Homo sapiens: one gene and its partners. The protein of the gene in region 2 purifies or fractionates together with the protein of the main gene of each other region. This does not show direct contact. Each region holds a gene or a part of one and is shown on either strand. Other genes may lie near its edges. The genes, in order: AHCYL2, ZNF641 and CHAMP1.

Region 1 (3,655 bases), on a different chromosome or scaffold from region 2:
AAAAACTAACCCCCTAGGCGATGGTATTAAAAGGTGATTATGGAAGTGATTGGAAGGTGATTAGACATGAGATTTCTGCCCTCACAAATGGGATTAGTGTACTTATAAAACAAGCCTGAGGAAGCTTGCTTGCCCCTTTGGCCATGTGAGGGCACATAGAAAGCGCCATCTATAAGGAACAGGCCCTCACCAGATACTGAATCTGCTGGCGCCTTGATCTTGGACTTCCTAGCCTCCAGAACTGTGAACAATAAATATCTATTGTTTATTAATTACCCAGTCTAAGGTATTTTGTTATAGCAGCCCAAATGAACTAAGACAAGAGTGAAAGAGTATTAGGTTGGCAAACAAAGCATAATTTCTTTGTCGTTATTTTTTTAAAGGAAAAAAATGTGGGGTGGAAACAATAAATTAATATTAAAATTGGTAAGCTAATTGTGATCAATCCATTCAGGAAAAAAATAGAAAGGGAACCATGAAAGGTGGTAATGCTCACTGAGCCTAAGGGTAAAAAACAAACTAGATGTAATTCAGCAACATGAGACAGTAGAGAAGCACTTACTATTTTAAGCTACCACACTGAAGTCTCATGTCGCTGACTGAGCAGGCCAAAAAAGATTCAAGAGTGTTTCTGTCTTGATTCATTAGTTTGTAGCTCCAAAACAGATAGCTTTTCAATTTATTATATTAATTTTGAGCAGTCAGGGTACTCTTGTCCTCAGAGAACACATAACCCAGAAAAGTTTCATAGTGAAGATGCTAATAGAAGCTGTCTGTACCTTGAGGAATCTCTAATGTTCTTAATCAGGAATGTGACCACATAAGTGTTGTGCTTTGGGAGAGACAATCTTTGGAAAGCTGATCTAGCCACACAGATGACCCAGATCTTATGAATCCCCATAAAAGATTCCAGACCACTGCTCAATATAACAATTTCCCGATAGTGGTCTCATTATGGTTAGCAACTCCATATATATTGCATCTCTGGTGATAAAAGAGGAGATCTAGAAAATTGTGGGGGCATTTTTGGTTGCCACAATAATTGGAAGGGGAGTGCTATTGGCATTTAGTGGGCAGGACCAGGAATCTGGACATTTTGAAAGTGTCTCAACAAAAAACTGTGTTGCAGCTGGTACAATTTTCAAATGTCCCAATAAAAGTTCCCATGGGTGAAAAACCTATCTACAATTATCTGAGTTTAGAACCTAATTCCACTTTACAAATTAGCAAAAAGTAGTTTTGTAGTTTTAATACAAAACAATAGTTTTTCCAGGAATGTAACAGCTATGTAAATGAAGAGAAAACTCATACTTTTTGTTGTTCTTATTGTTTAGAAGATTACAAAAAGTTGTTTACTATTTCAGAAAATCATGGCAATGCTGCTCTGATGCTCTGGAATCAATAACACATTTATTTCTGTCTTCAAATAATACTATTTCAAATAATACTGTGAAATAGTACAAATATCTGATTGTTCTACTATAGTTGTCCTCAAGTATTTACATATTGAAATACACATTATTTTAAGTATTGTACTTTTTTTATTCCTCCTTCATATTTCAGTTAAGATTTTATATTGATTTATTTTTAAAGATTATATGTACCTGGACATGTTATATCTGAATTTCATTTCAGGATAGTTCAGGGACACTGCAAAAAAAAAGTTTTTTAATAAAAAGGGGACATTAAAACTGATGAGAGTAAGGTAGGAATCACTGGTGTAAGCAAATCATGGTAATTCCACGCCCCTCGGTAGGACTGGTGGAGCACAGATACATGATCCAGTTCTGCCCAATGAGACACGATGGAGTATCCTGGAGGGACTTCTCTTGAGTGAGGAAGAAATGGTCCCTCTTCCTTTTCATGTCAGTTTGTGATGACTAGAATAGTTGTAAGCATCTTGCTATCAGCTTTAGGGTGAAGTAAGCATACTGAGGAGGCAGCTCCAAGAGAATCAGAGAGGTGAAGCTGGAGCCCTGAGATCCTGCATCTGAAGTCTGCCTTCCCTTTGGACTTTCTGCTATGTACTGTGATAAATTCCTTTATGTGACATAACTTTTATTACAGTCTGTTGTTGTAATTGCTCTCTTTTATTTTGAGTTACTGTTGTTCATTTCTTACTGTGCTGAATTTATAGCTGTCTCTCAGTATCCTCAGGGGATTTATTCCAGCACTCCCATGGATACCAAAATCTGAGGATGCTCATGTCCCTTATATAAAATGATGCAGTGTTTGCATATAATCTGTGCACATCCTTCTGTATATTTTAAAGCATCTCTAGGTTATTTATAGTACCCAATACAGTGTAAATGCTATGTAAATAGTTGTTATATTTCTTGTTATTTTGTATTGTTGTATTATTTTATTTTCTGAATATTTTTGATCTGCAGTTGGTCAAATCCTCAGGAAGCAGAACTGGTGGACATGCAGGGCCAATTGCATAAATTAAACTTGATTATAGGTATATATGTATAGGAAAAAACATAGTATATATAGGGTTCAGTACTGTCTGAAGTTTCAGGTGTCCACTAGGGGTCTTGAAACTTATCCCCCACAGACAAGGCAGGGGGACTACTGTATATTGAAGTTAAAATCTTGACTCTGTGATTTCTAGCTGTATAACCTTAAACAAATATCTTAAGCCCTCTGAGCCTCAGCTTCTTCGTTTATAAAATGGAAACAAGAATACCTGCTTTATATGGCCATTATAAGGATTAATAAGCTAATACTTGTTAAGCTCTTAACTCGGTGCTTGGCATGTTGTAAGCTTTCAGTAGCTCGTGGCTATTATTAACTATTGTAATTAAAAGGAGAAAAGAAAAGAACTCACAGCAGTCTGAGCAGTGATGTGTGTGCAACCCACGATTTTGGCTCCAGCCAAAGGCTTTTCTCCTTGAGCTCTCTTCCTCAAAGCCATCAATGCAGGCATTTCTGAAAAGGCCCAATAAATACAGCAATATTAAAGAAGAAGGAATAAGAGATAAAAGAACAAACAGAAAAACTTGTTTTCTTAAGTTAAGATCCTTCCCCTGATCAGGTTAGATTAGGTTTCTCCAGGGATCAAGACATTAAACCTGTATTTTCCTTTATAAAGGGCTTTTGGAGGCAAATGCTCCAGGGTTCTGATTCTCTATATTCCAGTCCTTATCCAGTCTCTCTCCCTTTTTTTTTTTTTTTTTTAATACAGGGTTCCTTCTAGACTTGCCAGATTTCCCCAGTGTTTCTTGAACTCACATTTCTTTTGTTATAAGTATTCTTATCACATAGAAATTTCACAAGCTACCAGACCCCAGACATAAAAAGGGATTAATATGGACAAAAAGACACAGGTAGGTTAAGAAGGAAAAGGTGCTTGTTTTCTTTACCTTGTTCAGCAATTTCAATTTCTCTTCGTCCAAACTCTGCCTGTTTGATGTTCTTAACACAGAAGTCACTGCTTCCCTTAGAGTTCTTTTGCTGCTTGTCCCTGGGCGATGTCTCATCATCAGAGCTATCTGTATATGAAGCCGCTGGAATGACAGAATAAAAAACACTCGGAAAAAAAAAAATGCTTCCTCTAAAATTCCAAACCATGGAGCAAACTGAAGCTTCTCTAGCCACCTAGCACCATATAAATTTTTTTACCTCTGTTAAGTACCTGCAGGCTATACACATG
Region 2 (3,655 bases):
GAGTTTTATTACTTTTCCAAGGTCCCACAACTACAGCCCAGAATTCAAATCCACAAAGTGCCTGCTACATCATTCTATTACACTCCCTTGCTTTTGAAGAAAAAAATCTCTAAACCTTTTGTCTCTGGAACTCTCTGAGGCAGAGGAGGGATTAAACGAACATGGAATGATGATGTCCCGAACTGTGAAGGAAGTGGCTGAAAGCCTATTCTAGGTTCTTACCTGTATATGTGACCCTCAGAATGTCCCTCTCCTCTAAGTCCTGGGGGTCAGGGACCCATTGTTCTTCTCCTCCTTCTAGTTGAGAAAGCATGTCCAGTTTGGGAATTGGAAATCCTGCTCATGGGAAAGGAAAATAGAGCTGTCAATTAGTTCAACAGCAATTCTATATTTCTGAAAAAAAAATACAAAAAACTGTTTCCTATTGTTTGGAACTCTAGACAAAAGAAGGTCAAGAAAGAAACATATCCCCACCCCAACCTCTTCCCCCACCCATTTCTGTTAAGTCCCTCTTCTCTGCCTAGAAAATCACTCTCCTTCCCAATGAACCTGTTTTCTTCCACTCAGATACTTCCAGCCCAGCTGGCCTTTCTGGGCGTAACTTCACTTTAGTCCTACTACGACAGTCCTACTCCCTGCATCCCTATCTTCCTCTACATGGTTCCCAAGTTTACAAGGACCCAGTTCCAGTTCTCTCTGCTTTATGAGAACCTCCTAATTCCCAACCAAGAAGAACCTCAAGTTCTACTCCACAATTAAGCATCATTTGCTTTTTTACTTTTTTTTTTTTAATGATATTTACTCTCATTCTCTTGGGATTGGCCCTAGTGTTCTTTCTCCAGCGGAAGCATAGACAGATTCCCTGCCACATAAAGAGTCCTAGACAGACACTATCCAATAGCCCTGAAGCAGATGGCTCCGTCCTCCCAGAGTCCAATCTTCTAGTGGCTGGAGAAGGTCATGCTTACTCAGAGAGACTACTATCCCACAGTTTTCCTGCATGACATATTCTCCATAAAAGTCTGTCTGAGAGGGGTCCAGGCTCCGCCACTCCTCCTGAGAGAAGCACAGTGACACATCCTTGATGGTTACCAGGCCCTGAAACAAAATGTAGCATCTTCTGTCAGCAGCTGTTTTTTAAGGAAAATGTGATTCAGTATGAAAGGCTAAGTTAGTAGAGGAGAGAGGGTGAGAAATGATCTGAGAAAAGAGCTGCCCAGAAGTCCCTGGGTAGGGCACATAGTTTTGGTAACAGGGAAATGAGGAGAGGAGTAAAGGTAGATGGTCAAGGAGTGAGTGAGTGTAATGTTACTGGAGGAATTTCCCAAGTGGGGCCATGAGAAGCTGGAGGCACCATAAACTCATCACCACCTCTGTTTAGCTACAGGTGTCTACTCAGTCACTTCTCCCTGGCCTTACTCTTTTTATGAAGAAATTATGTACCATTTCCTCCTTCTTCCACTGGACCCTGCCTTTTCTATCAGCACAAAATGCTACAGATAAAACATTCTTTCTTGCCTCCCTTGCCACAGCATTTTTTTTTTTTTGAGACGGAGTCTCACTGTCGCCCAGGCTGGAGTGCAGTAGCACAATCTTGGCTCACCGCAACCTCCACCTCCCAGGTTCAAGCGATTCTCCTGTCTCAGCCTCCCAAGTAGCTGGAATTACAGGCACCCACCACTACACCCAGCTATTTTTTTTGTGGTGTTAGTAGAGACGGGGTTTCACCATGTTGGCCAGGCTGGTCTCGAACTCCTGACCTTGTGATTTGCCCACCTCGGCCTCCCAAAGTGCTGGGATTACAGGCATGAGCCACCGTGCCTGGCCATATCTTTATATTTTTAGGCAGCACAGTATGGTGGTTAGGAGCTCAGAATCTGGAGCCAAGTGACTCAGCTTTGCCACTTTCTTGCAGCATGACCTACACAAGTGCCTTAATCTCTCCCTGCCCCATTTCCTCATCTGTAAAATTGGATAACTGAGTTGTTCTCAGAATTAAATGAGTTAATATACATAAAGCACCCAGAAAATGGCATACATGATAAACACTCTGGGGGTGTACTCTATTAGTACTAACACTATTAGTATTAGCTTTCCACAGCTCTCCTATTGCCTTCTGAATCTAAACCTAATTTCCTTTCTAGCTCTGCCCCTCTTTATAACCTTCTTCCTCTTCTTTTCCATAAATGCTCCCTCATCTACCCAATCCTTCCACTTTAGGTTCTTCTAAGCTTTCTTCAGGTCCTCTTTTCCTAATCTTTCCAGATTTATTTCTTAAAGGAAGGTAATTAATTATTCTTAAAATCCTCCTGTGGATAACAAACACAGCCATCCATTAAAAACCCTAACCTTGGCCAGGCACGGTGGCTCATACCTGTGACCCCAGCACTTTGGGAGGCTGAGGTGGGCAGATCACCTGACGTCAGCAGTTCAAGACCAGCCTGGCCAACGTGGCAAAACCTTGTCTCTACTAAAAACACAAAAATTAGCTAGGTGTGGTGGCGTGTGCCAGTAGTCCCAGCTACTTGGGAGGCTGAAGCACAAGAATCGCTTGAACCCAGAAGGTGGAGGTTGCAGGGAGCCAAGATCATACCACTGCACTCCAACCAGGGCAACACAGTGAGATTCTGTCTCAAAAACAAAAAACAAAACAAAACTCAAAAAAACCCTAACCTCAAGGAATTCCCTTTCTTGTAGGTCCATTTAATTTTCCAAGGGTCTTATGACCCCTTGGAAAGGGATAGAATCTATTCAGTTATAAGATGAACATACCATTGATGATCATGTGAGCCAACTCATCAATGGGCTGATGCGAAAGCAATACAAAGGCAGCAGTGATGGGACCACAGGAGACGCCAAGGGAAGCAGAGCTCACCTGTGATCCAGCCGCAAGAAGTGCAGCTGCCATCTCCCAGTCTCCAGTGTTCCCCTCCTGGGGAATTGCAGGAACCCAGGGAGCAGACTGAGCTGATAAGGAGAGAGAAGAAACATTAGAGAATAACGATCTACCCTTTCTCAATGGGGCCTGGGCCCCATTTTAGAGAGGCTTAAGGGTCACAACTTCTGTATCTATGCCCATTGGTAAAACTCAAATGCATAAATGTAGATGAGAAGGCCATCACTCAAAATGTTCTGAAAGGGTATCAGATGGCTTTTAGTTAGACTAGCTATAGTTTGAATTTACAGTACTTGAATGTAATTTTCATCTAGTAAATTACATCTTACTGAGTGGGTTATCCAACAGTAATCAGGTTGCTGTCACTTCCTTCATCTCCCTCATTCAGTATCACTAATTATGCATTTGCATGTGGAGGGAGTAATTATGAAGAAACAAGAGAAGCCCAGTTGCATGGTTTGCTGAATTCAGGAGCCTATTCTGTACCTGTGACCAGGGCTGAGAAAGAATGGGCTGGTCCTGGTACAGGTTATGCTATTTAGTCCATGGCAATTTGGAGATTTTTAACCCTACTTTTGGAATAAATATTAGGAGACTATGCACTGTGCTTCCCACACACTCTGTGAGTTCTCACCCTTCTCCTGAAGGGACTGTGGCTCCTCTTCAAGGTCACAGCACAGGTGCTCCAGAGGTCCTGGTACTGTTCTCCATGGCCGCTCTTCCTGGCTTCCCCTTTCCACCTGGGGCTCTGCTCCATCC
Region 3 (3,655 bases), on a different chromosome or scaffold from region 2:
GGTGGCCCCAATGTTTCCGGGAAATGAGACTGCTTCTGGGGTTTGGGATTACTAAGAGTAGCCTTTACTGACTCAGGAGATACAGGGGCAGGTTTCTGTGGTTCTGGAGAAGGAACAGGGGCAAGTTTCTGAGACTCACAAACAGGGACTGATTTTGGAGGTTCAGGAGAAGAAACAGAGGCAGGTTTTGAAGGCTCAGGAGAAGGAAGAGGTGTCTGTAGCTCAGGAGAAACAACAGAGCCAGGTTTCTGAGGCTCCAGGGGAGTAAGAGGAGTAGGTTTTGGCGATTCTGGAGACAAAACTGAACCAAGTTTCTGTGTTTCCATTGAAAGGGCAGGTATGGATTTTGGTTCTGCTGAATTGCAGGGTATTTTCTGGTGTTCAGGAAGAGGAGGGCTTTTCACAGGATCTGTTTCTTTGTTCAACTGATTTTTTGGTTTATCATTCCATTTGTCTGGGGATGCATGTTTGGATGTGATGTGATAGTATACATTAGAGTACATCTTGCTGGTGAAGAAGCATTTATGGCAGTGAAATAACTTTGCACTTTTCTGGTAAAATATCATTTTGCCTAGCCCACCAGCATCCATTTCATCACAAAATTCTGGATGGATGGTACCCATATGGATTTGTACATTTTCATAGTCTGTGCCTCTGAAACTGCAATGGTCACACTCCAAACGTGCTGATGGTTTACGAAGTTCCTGGAATGCTTCCATTCTTCTGTCTGTTACCAACACACACGGTTATATTCTTTAAAAACTTTCAATACTGCTGCAATAAAGTAGGAATAAATTATTTTCATGAACTGTAATTCTGAATAAAATGCTGTCAGTCCATTCTATAACTGCATAATTTTAAGTCTAGAACAGTGCGTGCTTTATTTGATAGTATCTCTAGGGAGAATTTGAAGAAAAAGGAGATATAGAACAGTCCCAGGCACTCTGCTAGGAGTTTCACATACATCATCTCATTTAATCCTAATGATATGACTCAACTATTATTTTCACTTACAGATGAAGAAACAGGTTCAGAGAAGTTACCTGACTTTCTCTGGTCCAGGCTATAGGACTATCAGTGATGTGAGCCTGACTCTAGAATTAGCTATTGCATGTGCTTTATACTTTGACTCTCAAACTCCGAGTACAAAAGTCCTCAGCACACAAAGATGAGTGAATATCAAAATTAAATCTTGGCTATTTAAGGATGAACAAGAGACTAAAACTTTTGCAGAAAGCACTTAATAAATTAAATCTAGCTATAAAAAGATGACTTTAAAACATGATGCTGGCTTGATTTCATGTCAACATATTTTGTAATGTTTAATCTATCCCAATATAGTATTCTATTAATTCATTTAATAAATAAATAACTTTGTGTCCTACAATGTTCTAGGCACTTAGGCTTAAAGCAGTGCTTTGCAATATGGCGTTCATGAGTTGGAAAGATAAGGTGGAGAGTGATGTAGAGGCCGTTGGAAAAGACCTCTATGCATGGGACATTCCAGCAGAGATCCTGAATGATGTGAAGGCGCATACCAACCAAAGGGCAAATCAGAGGACACCCCAGCAGCTGGAACACAGTTGCCGGAAAACATGAATTTAAAAAAATTGTAAACCAGTCTTCTTAAGTAGTAAAGGGAATAGAAGCTCACAGTTAAAAACACATTCACACAGTACGAGATACAGAGTGTCAGTCCCTAGGGGTAGCCAGTGTACTCATGTGTCCTGGAAGAAATGTCCTAAGCATATATTGATCAACACACATGCTTTACACAAATGGGATATTAAACATATTATCTGGCAACTTACTCTCATTTAGAATTTATCTCTAAGACATTTTTACATATGGAATAAGCACTGACTTTCCCTGTACTTATCTGTGCATGTGAGGGTATTTCTGCAGGGAAAATTCCTAGCAATGGATTACTTGGCCATTTGTGTGTAAAATTGATACATTTTACCAAACTCTCAAAAACTTCTATTACTGCATAACAACGTGTATATATGAGAGACAATTTCCTATAAATTCCTAATCCTTGCTACAACCTAGGTGAAAGCTAGTATTTCACTATTGTGTTAATGTGCTTCTCTTTAATGAGAAAGACTGAACACCTTCCCTTATTGACGGTAATGATATTTACTCCTCCTCAAAGAACAGTACAGATTAGAAATGCAGGCTCTCCCTTTATTAATTACAAAACCATTATTTTAAAAAAATGTATAGGCTGGGCGCAGTGGCTCATGCCTGTAATCTCAGCACTTTGGGAGGCCGGGCAGGCAGATCACGAGGTCGGGAGATCAAGACCATCATGGCCAACATGGTGAAACCCCATCTCTACTAAAAATACAAAAATTAGCCAGGCGTGGTGGCGTGTGCCTGTAGTCCCAGCTACTTGGGAGGCTGAGGCAGGCCAATCGCTTGGACCAGAAGTCGGAGGTTGCAGAGAGCTGAGATCATGCCGCTGCATTCCAGCCTGGTGACAGAGCAAGACTCCATCTCAAAAAAAAAAAAAAAAAAAAAAATTAACATTTCTAACTTTGATAATTTGTTTTTAAAGATGTTCTCACTGGCAATACTGCTTCCTAACACTTTTATCCAAGGTATATCATTTGCCTTTTTTATTTTTTGATCTAAAGCTAAAAAGGTGACAGATACTTGAGGAAACAAATACTTTTCTTCGGAAACTATTTACTCTTTCTGAGTTGCCCAGCAGTTATCCTGTATTTTAGAAAACTGTTTTGGGGCCAGGACTGTAACAAAAGAAAAATAAATAATTCCGTACTGATGAAAAATCTCTGAAAATGATCTTTAACTTACAAACGTAATTGAATGCATGGAAAAATAATGGGTTAACCATCCGTCTCAGAGCCCATTGTTAAATAAAACTAGAAGACTTTAGGGGAAAACGTAGGATATGTCTCAATAATCCCATGAGGCAATAATGAACAGCCCAACTGGCAATAATGAACAGCCAAGCTAATATTAAAGAGCACTATATTACATATTGTAATTACAACAGAGACTAAGAGCTCAGGTGTGCTGGGTTTGAGTCTGACTCACCTACCATTCCCCATTCCTCCCAGCCATCCCTCCTCTTCCCGCTGCCTACCACCAGCTCTTCAGGCCAATCTCATACTTAAATCTACAAAGAATGCTACAGAATTCACTTCTCATATCCCAAATTATGTATATCTAGCACACAACACACATTATATCCATAAGGGCGTGTACACTTTTAGAGATTTTCCTCAAGAACTCCAGGTATTTTTTTTTAATTTTCTCCTCATAAAATATTCTCCTAAGCATGCTTTCCCTACTAGACTTACCTGCTGTCTTACTAGACACCTTAAAAGTGGTCTTCAAAAGGCAGGCATTCTACATGGCTTTTTGACTAAACCACAGCAAACAGCCTATAGTATATGAAGAAGAACAAAGATGAGAAGTTGAACCTGGAAAAAAAAAAAAAAAAAAAGAAAAGTAATCAAAACTATATCTGTGATCGTGTGTGCCCCCTGTAATGGAATTCTGTGTATTTCTCTCACCATCCTGCCCTAACAGTGAGAGGAGTCCAGTCCACTAAGCCTGCTTACTTTTTTTTTTTTTGAGACAGAGTCTTGCTCTGTCGCCCAGGCTGGAGTGCAGTGGCGCGATC

What was found.
Region 1: the proteins of ZNF641 (region 2) and AHCYL2 purify together in Homo sapiens (affinity purification with mass spectrometry; one large-scale study listed by BioGRID and IntAct). This does not show direct contact.
Region 3: the proteins of ZNF641 (region 2) and CHAMP1 purify together in Homo sapiens (affinity purification with mass spectrometry; one large-scale study listed by BioGRID and IntAct). This does not show direct contact.

What each region holds. Positions count from the first base shown.
Region 1 is NC_000007.14:129,388,910-129,392,564, reverse strand, and holds part of AHCYL2 (adenosylhomocysteinase 3), read right to left. Parts: exon of another isoform or gene 3,625-3,655; intron 3,510-3,624; coding exon 3,366-3,509; intron 2,932-3,365; coding exon 2,831-2,931; intron 1-2,830. UniProt on the Homo sapiens protein: May regulate the electrogenic sodium/bicarbonate cotransporter SLC4A4 activity and Mg(2+)-sensitivity. On the contrary of its homolog AHCYL1, does not regulate ITPR1 sensitivity to inositol 1,4,5-trisphosphate.
Region 2 is NC_000012.12:48,344,377-48,348,031, forward strand, and holds part of ZNF641 (zinc finger protein 641), read right to left. Parts: coding exon 3,531-3,655; intron 2,968-3,530; coding exon 2,876-2,967; coding exon of another isoform or gene 2,773-2,875; intron 1,099-2,772; coding exon 969-1,098; intron 337-968; coding exon 223-336; intron 1-222. UniProt on the Homo sapiens protein: Transcriptional activator. Activates transcriptional activities of SRE and AP-1.
Region 3 is NC_000013.11:114,320,907-114,324,561, reverse strand, and holds part of CHAMP1 (chromosome alignment-maintaining phosphoprotein 1), read right to left. Parts: intron 3,453-3,655; 5' UTR 3,330-3,452; intron 2,500-3,329; exon of another isoform or gene 775-2,499; 5' UTR 720-774; coding exon 1-719. UniProt on the Homo sapiens protein: Required for proper alignment of chromosomes at metaphase and their accurate segregation during mitosis. Involved in the maintenance of spindle microtubules attachment to the kinetochore during sister chromatid biorientation.